3 separate regions of the Homo sapiens genome follow, and regions 1 and 2 are each linked to region 3. The links come from fine-mapping of genetic effects on gene expression. A gene starts in region 3. Each other region holds a variant in brackets. All regions are shown on one strand. Distances are from middle to middle. Region 1 overlaps SKAP1 (src kinase associated phosphoprotein 1). Region 2 overlaps SKAP1 (src kinase associated phosphoprotein 1). Region 3 holds the start of HOXB2 (homeobox B2).

Region 1 (2,854 bases), 150 kb after region 3:
TCTAGCAAGATAATCTGGAAAAGCCACTACTAGATAAATGTAAATTATATATTTACACACACATATATATATATTTTACAACTTCCTAGTCTCTTTGTTGTTTCCTTGCTTCCTTTAATTCTTTCCTCAACGTGTATTGCTCTAGAAACAAAAGGGTGGAGAGAAATAAAAGTAGCACTGTCTGTGATTCTTGGTAAACTTTAGGGGCTTAGCTCTTATTTTTATGGCTGGCTTGGCATTCACTGGTATTTGCCATGGTTGTGGACTTGCTGTAAATGGAAGCATCTGACTCTATCACAGCTATTATAATGTGCTTTTTGCTATTTTTTGTTGTCTAGAGTGAATGACCACAGGAAAAGACAATTGTGTCAAGAATCCTGGGTGTTCTCCAAGTGCTCATGTTTTTCAGTACAAATCACTTTAGCTATTCTGTTTTTAGACTTAGAAACAAAAAATAGCTATCTTTTTTTAGACTTAGAAACAAAAAATAAAATCCTATCTATATTTACATACTCTTTTCTTTTTGTTTGAAAGTGTTACCAATGAAGGCTAATATTTTCCATGTAACACAAAATAAAAACGGATAGCAATTTCTGTGATTCCAAGGAAATGAAGCCCTATTGTGGTATTTGTTGTCCTAAGCTGTGATTTTCATTGCTTTTCTTAAAAACTAAACAGCTTTCACATTCCAAGTCTAAGTTTTCATTGAGCCCTTTGGAGAGTGGCTAGTATGAAAGCCAGGCAAAGGCACTTCCTGCTTTATTACGATGGTCACTGCAGGATTAGCACCAGATGTGAGACACCTGGAATGAAGCAGTTGTGATCTGTGCTCAGACACTTGATGGCATTCTAACGCATTGGGAGAAACAGTAGAGCATTTTTTAAATGTTTGATTCAGTGGAGGCCATCTGACTGCAAGAATACGTTGAGAGTGGGGGAGGGGTAAAGAAAAAAAAAATATATATATATATATTTTTTTTGAGACCGAGTCTCTGTTGCCCAGGCTAGAGTGCAGTGGTGCGATCTTGGTTCATTGCAACCTCCACCTCCCAGGTTCTGGCGATTCTTGTGCCTCAGCCTCCCAAGTAGCTGGGATTACAGGCATGAGCCACCACACCTGGCTAAAGGTTTTTGTATTTTTGGTAGAGATGGGGTTTTACCATGTTGGCCAGGCTGGTCTCTCCTGACCTCAGGTGATCCACTCACCTTGGCCTCCCAAAGTGCTAGGATTACAGGAGTGAGCTACCACGCCCAGCCAAAAATAGAATATTTTTATTATTGAGATATGGCTTAATTTCTCTCTCAATGGCCCTTCTTGGATAAGTAGTCATTTATGCTCCCTGTTGGAAGTGAAGGACAGAGCCAATGGAAGCAAACTTGGAGTATTGTTTCCTTCTGTGAAACTTAGTAATGCTGAAGGAGTTCCAAAAAGAGACCAGTAGATTTATATCATATTGAGATGGAAAGAAATAAAGAAATACATTTTGTGTAACAGGGTTATGGCACAAAACTCAGGACATTTAAACTACAGGCTGAAAGAATATCTTGAACGTGTCTCATTTGTGGGTGGCTAACCTATAGCTCTGTGTGAAACATGATATACTAGTAAAATCTCATAAAAATAATTCTGACTTTCTTTGGGAATTTCATGTTTTCTTTTCAGCTTAACGTGGATTTAGCTTTAAAACAAGATTTAGCTTAAGAATGTATAATTCTGATATTTTTGTATTATAGGAAGAAAGACAAGGAGTTAGCCTGATAAAAC[T/G]CTTGGGAGCAAGAGTTTTGAAGTAGTATACTGTAAATATAATTACCATTAATTATATAGAGAGTTTTACTTTTCTTAAATGTTAATTATTGAGCTTAAAAATCCCCAAAACAAAACACATTCAAATGAAGTATGCTTATCAAAAGAACTAATGTATAATGTGCTATTAATACATTTATGTTATTCACAAGTTTCAAGATTTACTCATAACATCTTTTTCTGTTTTTTAATTTTGCTACTTGTACTGGAGCTTCAGTGCCAATGCAGAAAAAAAAAAAAAAAAAAAGGAAGAGGTAGTTGAATGATCCGTCTAAGTTTAAATAGCTCTGAAAAGGCTCAAAAGTCATAGCAATAATTTGACCACATCTGGAAGGTTAATAACTCATTTCTTCCTTTTTCAGTCTTATCCCTCCCTCCCATCCTTAAAGGAAGAAAAAACAAACCCACAACAACTTCAACATTATTACTCAACTCATCAGTTATATCAGTCAAATTTTTGCTTAGTTCTCTGTTATTCAGTGGATGAATGTTGAGATTTCACAACTGAGTTAAAGAGTTTTGTGAATCTACTTCTCTAGGAATGAGAGGTTGTATTTATTGCTGTTTTAATCTGGAATGCCCTACAGGTGAGAAAGATAGAATATTACTTACTGTTGATCTCTTGGCTTAACTTTTAAGACCTGGTAAGGAAGATCATCTTATGTGTTTTTTATGGCAAGTCTCTGTCCTTTCAAAATAGCTTTGAAATGTATAACTCTCCTTATAATTTTATCATAATGATTATTTTGTTTATTCTTTCATATGTGAGGCTATCTGGAAGTAGAACAATTTTTCTTAAATAACATTTTTTAATGTAATAATGACCATAGTCCTTGGTGGTTCAGAATAAACCATACCTTTTATATTTTCATTTTATATCTTTAAGATTTTAGATTGAAGTTCAGAAAAATGTTTTTGATGTTGTTGTTGTTGTTGTTAGTTAGTTAGTTTTTTGTTTTTTTGAGACAGAGTCTCATTCTGTCACCCAGACTGGAGTGCAGTGGCATGATCTTGGCTCACTGCAACCTCCGCAAATTCAAGCAATTCTTG
Region 2 (2,854 bases), 220 kb after region 3:
CCAAAATAAGAAAGTTGAGAAAGCCCTTTGCCCTTCCTGTCTTCACCTTTGCTTTTGTTCTGTCACCTTCCTCCTGCCTGGAATATAGACTTGCCGCCTATAGATACAGCAGCCACTTGCTCAGAGATATTATGTCTTACCCATGGCAACAATCAATAAGTAGCAAAGCTAGAAGAACATAAATATCCAGCCCACTCTTTCCGTTATACCTTGAGTGTAACTGTCAATGAACTTCCCTTTATTGTAGATTCTAGTAATTTTCCCACCCCCAAATGAACCACATATCAAATGAAATGGGTCTAAATATATATGCATACACAAATATGCAGAATACAATTCAGCAAACATTTCAGTCTCTTCCTGTGCAAGCTCTGTGCTAAGAAATAAAGAGGAGAGCAAGACTATCCCTGCCCTCTGGTGGCTTATAAATAGATTTATGTGCAAAAGTAATGAAGGTAGAATATGCTAATTTTATAATGTAGCAAGAGAACAAAGTAATGTAAAATCCATCTTGAATGGGAAATTCTACAAAAACTTTAAGTTGGTAGTAGGCTTTGAAGTACAGTCAGCAGTTAAAAATAAGGAAAGATAATGCCAGGCAGATAATGAACTATAAGCAAAGATATGAAAGGAGACATTCAAAGGGGTTTCTTGGGTAGAATTCAGTAGTAGGCTATGGCTAGACCATAGGCTGCACAGGTAGGAACAGGAGAAGATAAAACTGGAAAAATAATTTGGGTATGGATTGTGAAGATTATGTTCAACCTTTATTTTGAAGGTGATAGGCAGCTGTGAAGTATTTTTTAAAAAATCACAGATTGACTTAGTCAGGTTCATATTTTGGGAGGAAAGGGTGATTAGAGAGAAGATTAGGAGATGCTTGCCATGGTGTTGGTGAGCAGTGCTGAGGACCTTTCAATGTCAGTGGACCTTTCAATGGAGAGATGGACTGGAGAGACCATTTAACCTTTAAAAATAATGAAACAGGCCGAGCGCGGTGGCTCACGCCTGTAATCCCAGCACTTTGGGAGGCCGAGGCTGGCGGATCACAAGGTCAGGAGATCGAGACGATCCTGGCTAACACGGTGAAACCCCATCTCTACTAAAAATACAAAAAAATTAGCCGGGCGTGGCGGCAGGCGCCTGTAGTCCCAGCTACTTGGGAGGCTGAGGCAGGAGGATGGTGTGAACCCGGAAGACGGAGCTTGCAGTGAGCCAAGATTGCGCCACTGCACTCCAGCCTGGGTGACAGAGCGAGACTCTATCTTAATAATAATAATAATAATAATAATAATAATAATAAT[AATAATAATAATG/G]AGACAGAAGGATGAGCTGGATAGAAAAGATCATTGTGGAATATTGTTCCTGAAAATCTTTTAAAATAGGGTGGCTAACTATCTCTCTATCTTGAACAAGTTACATATTTATATCTAGAGAGGTAGGGAATTGGCCCAAATGATTTCTTGAGGGGTCATTCTTTGCTTTTGGGTAATTAGAAAACATATACAAATGGGTAGTTCCTTCTATACTCCAGTGAGATTCTTGGTTAGCTGAGTGTTGCTTGTTTCTCTCCATTCTGTTGGAGACTGCTAGCCATGTTACTGATTAGTATCACATCCTCTAAAAAATGTTGGAGAAATTCTGGGACCTCACATGCTAAGGGTGCTCATTATCTGGATGCCTGTCATTGGCTTGGCTGGCCTAGGCCTGGAAGCATAGATTTCCACCAGAAACAGAAAGAATTTGACGTGTAATGTATTCAATAATCACAGCCTTCTGCTGCTCCTTGCCCAGCATAACAGTTAAATGAGAGTTTTGAAGTATCTAGGAATTTTATTCATTATTGTTCTTTTAATTACCACTATTACTGATAGTAAGAAATGCTTTTTCTTTAAAAAAAAAAATTGGTGGAGGTAGAGATGGGATCTCACTGTGCTGCCCAGGCTGGTCTCAAACTCCTAGGCTCAAGCAATCCTTCTGCCTCGGCTCCCAAAGCATTGGAATTACAGGTGTGAGCCACCACACCCAGCCAAGAAATCCTCTCTCTTTTGATAAAAACTTGTATGATTTTTTTCTCTCTGATTGCGTTTTCTTTGCCTTAGTAAGATTTTTAAGAGAAACTTACTTTCTTTTTTATATTGCAGTAACCATTAGTATTTTTAGGAGTTATAAAGTTCAGGCCAAATAATTTACTTTTATTTAACATTTATAAGTGTGCTGGGCACTATGAGTTTCTACTATGTTATAGGTTTTTATAGCAACTTATTTCCAGGAGAGTAAAGAAAAAATTTACTTTTGAAAGACATCCTTGTCTAGAAGTATCAGTTTAATCTTAAGATAATATTACTGATTTATTATACCTCTCAGAATAGACTTAGGGGCTTTTTAAGGTGTACAGAGAACCAATAAGATCACTTAATTAATACTTAAGGCTGAGTTTTTCCTGATGACATGTTCTTGAATTGTTACTCTGTTATTTGTGGTTCATGAGAGACTGTTTCTTGGTAATAATAGATATCATCAATAGGAAACTCATCCTTTTTTCCTTTTAGCTTCATTTTTATTCCTGGGTTATCTTGCATGCCTTTGGATCTCTTGCCTCATGAAATATCCTGGTAATTTTGTTTTCAGGGTTTTTTTAACCTTTGGATTACTAAAAGACTATGAGATTATTTGTCCATTTAATAGATGGTTATCATATTGGTTATCACATAAGGGATATTTTAGATACTTGGTCATAAGCTTTCTTATCAAGCCTTCAAAATTTTTATTAAAAGAGAGGAATTCATTTATTTGTTTGTTTGTTCGTTTGTTTGTTTTTTGAGACACGGTCTCACTCTGTCACCCAGGCTGG
Region 3 (2,500 bases):
CTCCTCAAAATAAAATAAATTTTAAAAACATTTTCCCCCAGCAGCCAGAAATGGAATATCATCTCAGTGGTCATTATTTCCACCCCTACCATCTTCAGGGAATTCTTCCTTGTCAGGGATTCTTTTTTTTTTTTTTTTCTTTTTTCTTTTTTAACTAGCACAATGGCAAAAATGGGAGGGAAAGTCTCTTTGTCCTAGGGGAAAATCTCCCCACCACACTCATGCACACACATAACGCTGATCTGAACTTTGAGAGTGCTCTAAGTTAAACCAATGGCTACCTCAGTTCTTGTTCATGTCCCTGGATATGGATACAGATACAAGCTTGAGGCTTGAGTGGGTACATGCACATCTTAGACTCTGCCTGTTTTTGGGGGATGTCACAGAGAAGCATGGAAGCCTGAAAGTGAGGAAAGCAGGGGTACATAAGGGGCAGAGGCAGTGCTGCAAACACTGGGCAGAGAAGAGAACCCAGACCATACAGCGATGGAGGCCAGAGGCCCAAAAATGCCCCTTATGCTCCATCTCACTCCTATGTGTCTGCCTGGGAGTTCCTGTCCATTTCCCAAGATTTAACTGTTGTTTTTGGAGGGTAACAGGGATAGTGGTGTGATGATTGTAAATCTCTTTCTTATTTTCACCTTAATACTGACCTTTTTCAAAGAGTGGAAGCCTCTTTCGACTCCCTCTTCCTCCAACGCGGAGATCCTCACTCATCTTTTCCTGGGGAAGGGGAGAAGGGAAGGGGATGCTGCTGGCCACGTAAAGAAGGCCTTAATTTACTCTATTAAAATACTTGGAAAAGAGGAAGGTTTCTCCCTTAGAGTCTCTTCTTTTCCAGGCTTCTGAAACCTTCTAACCTTCGAAGGGGATGAGGAAAAGGTTCCTCTAGCTTTTCTGGAGAAACGGAGGCATTGGGGAGAGAGCATGTGAGGCACTGGTGTAGGAATGGGGGCTCATGGTGTCCTGGTCGTGGTCCTCTGGTGTTTTTGAATCAATTAAACCAAATAATGCTCTCTGTTTTCCACCAGGCCCAGACGAGCGATTGGCGGAGGCCGGTCCCGTGACCACGAATTCCCTGTAATTTCGCTGGAGTCCTGGGTTTAATAGAGAGAGTCCCCATACGCTTGTATTTATCAGCAATATACAATTATAAAGGCCCAAAATTAAAAAAAAGAGAGACCGAAATCTCCCCCTCCCAAAATCGCTCCATTACATAAATCGGGGGGGGTGCAGGAGGGGGGTCCCTTCCGATCCTCCCTCCTGACGCCCCCCCCAGCAGCCCCCTCCCCCACCATTGAAAGCCATGAATTTTGAATTTGAGAGGGAGATTGGGTTTATAAACAGCCAGCCGTCGCTCGCCGAGTGTCTGACTTCCTTCCCCGCTGTCTTGGAGACATTTCAAACTTCATCAATCAAGGAGTCGACATTAATTCCTCCTCCTCCTCCTTTCGAGCAAACCTTCCCCAGCCTCCAGCCCGGCGCCTCCACCCTTCAGAGACCCAGGAGCCAAAAGCGAGCCGAAGATGGGCCTGCTCTGCCGCCGCCACCGCCGCCGCCACTCCCCGCTGCCCCCCCGGCCCCCGAGTTCCCTTGGATGAAAGAGAAGAAATCCGCCAAGAAACCCAGCCAATCCGCCACGTCTCCTTCTCCGGCCGCCTCCGCCGTTCCGGCCTCCGGGGTCGGATCGCCTGCAGGTCGGTAAGCGTGGTGGGGGTGGGGTGAGGGGCAGCTAGAAGAGGGGGAGAAAAAGCAGTGGAAGGAGGTTTAAAAAAAATGGTGGCGAGCCTGTTGGGGTTCCTTACCCCCTCCATTCCTGGGATGGGGAAGTAGAATATCCCACTGGGGTTCAGGCCTGGCCGCTAACAGCGTCTTTTTTTTTTTCTGTCTCTCTCTCTCTTTCTCTCCCTATGGCTGATTTTGGAAGCTGGTTGGGGAAACGCCTTTTTTTCTGCTAGAAGAAAATGATTTGATTGAGGTTTTCACCCGTATCTGTGTAGGGGAATGAGTATGTTGTTGCTGGGATAGACCCTAGAAGCAGAAAAGATTCGGTCCTTTCTGCCCCAACTCTAGGAGAAGAGGAAGAATTCAGAGCTAGGGAGGAAGAGGGGTGAAGAACAATCTTTCTGACCCTCGCTCCGGTTGAGTTGGAAAGTTCCGAATTGAGGGGTCCACTGGGAGGGCTTGGGAGGGGGATCTGAGGTTCCGGCGCCGAAGGGAGCCGCTCTCCGCCCCCTGCGTGGCCCGTGGGCGGCTCTGAATGCTTTGCCCTGACCCGGGCCGGGGCTGTAGACTAGAGAGGGAGAGAAGAAAACCCAAAAGCAGTAAAGCGAGCGGCTTTGGGGTGGGGGCGGGGGTGGGGTGGCGAGGAAGGGGAGAGGTGATACTGGTTTTGGAGGATGGGGTAGTCCGAACTGAGGTTGGGCTGAGTACACGGCCCGCTATGACGCCGAGCCTGTTTTCCCTGCAGATGGCCTGGGACTGCCGGAGGCTGGTGGCG

What was found. PIP is the estimated chance that this variant, and not a neighbour inherited with it, causes the effect.
Region 1: its variant is fine-mapped to the expression of HOXB2 in whole blood (INTERVAL, PIP above 0.99).
Region 2: its variant is fine-mapped to the expression of HOXB2 in monocytes after LPS (Fairfax 2014, PIP 0.95).

What each region holds. Positions count from the first base shown.
Region 1 is chr17:48,390,982-48,393,835 of GRCh38, reverse strand. All of the region lies in intron 2 of SKAP1 (src kinase associated phosphoprotein 1), which reads left to right. Among named protein-coding and RNA genes, the nearest start is that of SKAP1, 38 kb to the left of the region's middle. The variant T/G (reference allele first, on the strand shown) is at 1,766.
Region 2 is chr17:48,319,810-48,322,663 of GRCh38, reverse strand. All of the region lies in intron 4 of SKAP1 (src kinase associated phosphoprotein 1), which reads left to right. Among named protein-coding and RNA genes, the nearest start is that of SKAP1-AS2, 27 kb to the right of the region's middle. The variant AATAATAATAATG/G (reference allele first, on the strand shown) is at 1,305.
Region 3 is chr17:48,543,718-48,546,217 of GRCh38, reverse strand. It overlaps HOXB2 (homeobox B2), which reads left to right and starts at 1,109. Exons shown (of 2, transcript NM_002145.4): 1 at 1,109-1,697; 2 at 2,471-2,500. The coding sequence starts at 1,307. HOXB-AS1 (HOXB cluster antisense RNA 1) reads right to left here and starts at 1,867. Exons shown (of 7, transcript NR_102279.1): 1 at 1,806-1,867; 2 at 861-1,097; 3 at 654-723. RefSeq lists an enhancer at 2,241-2,500.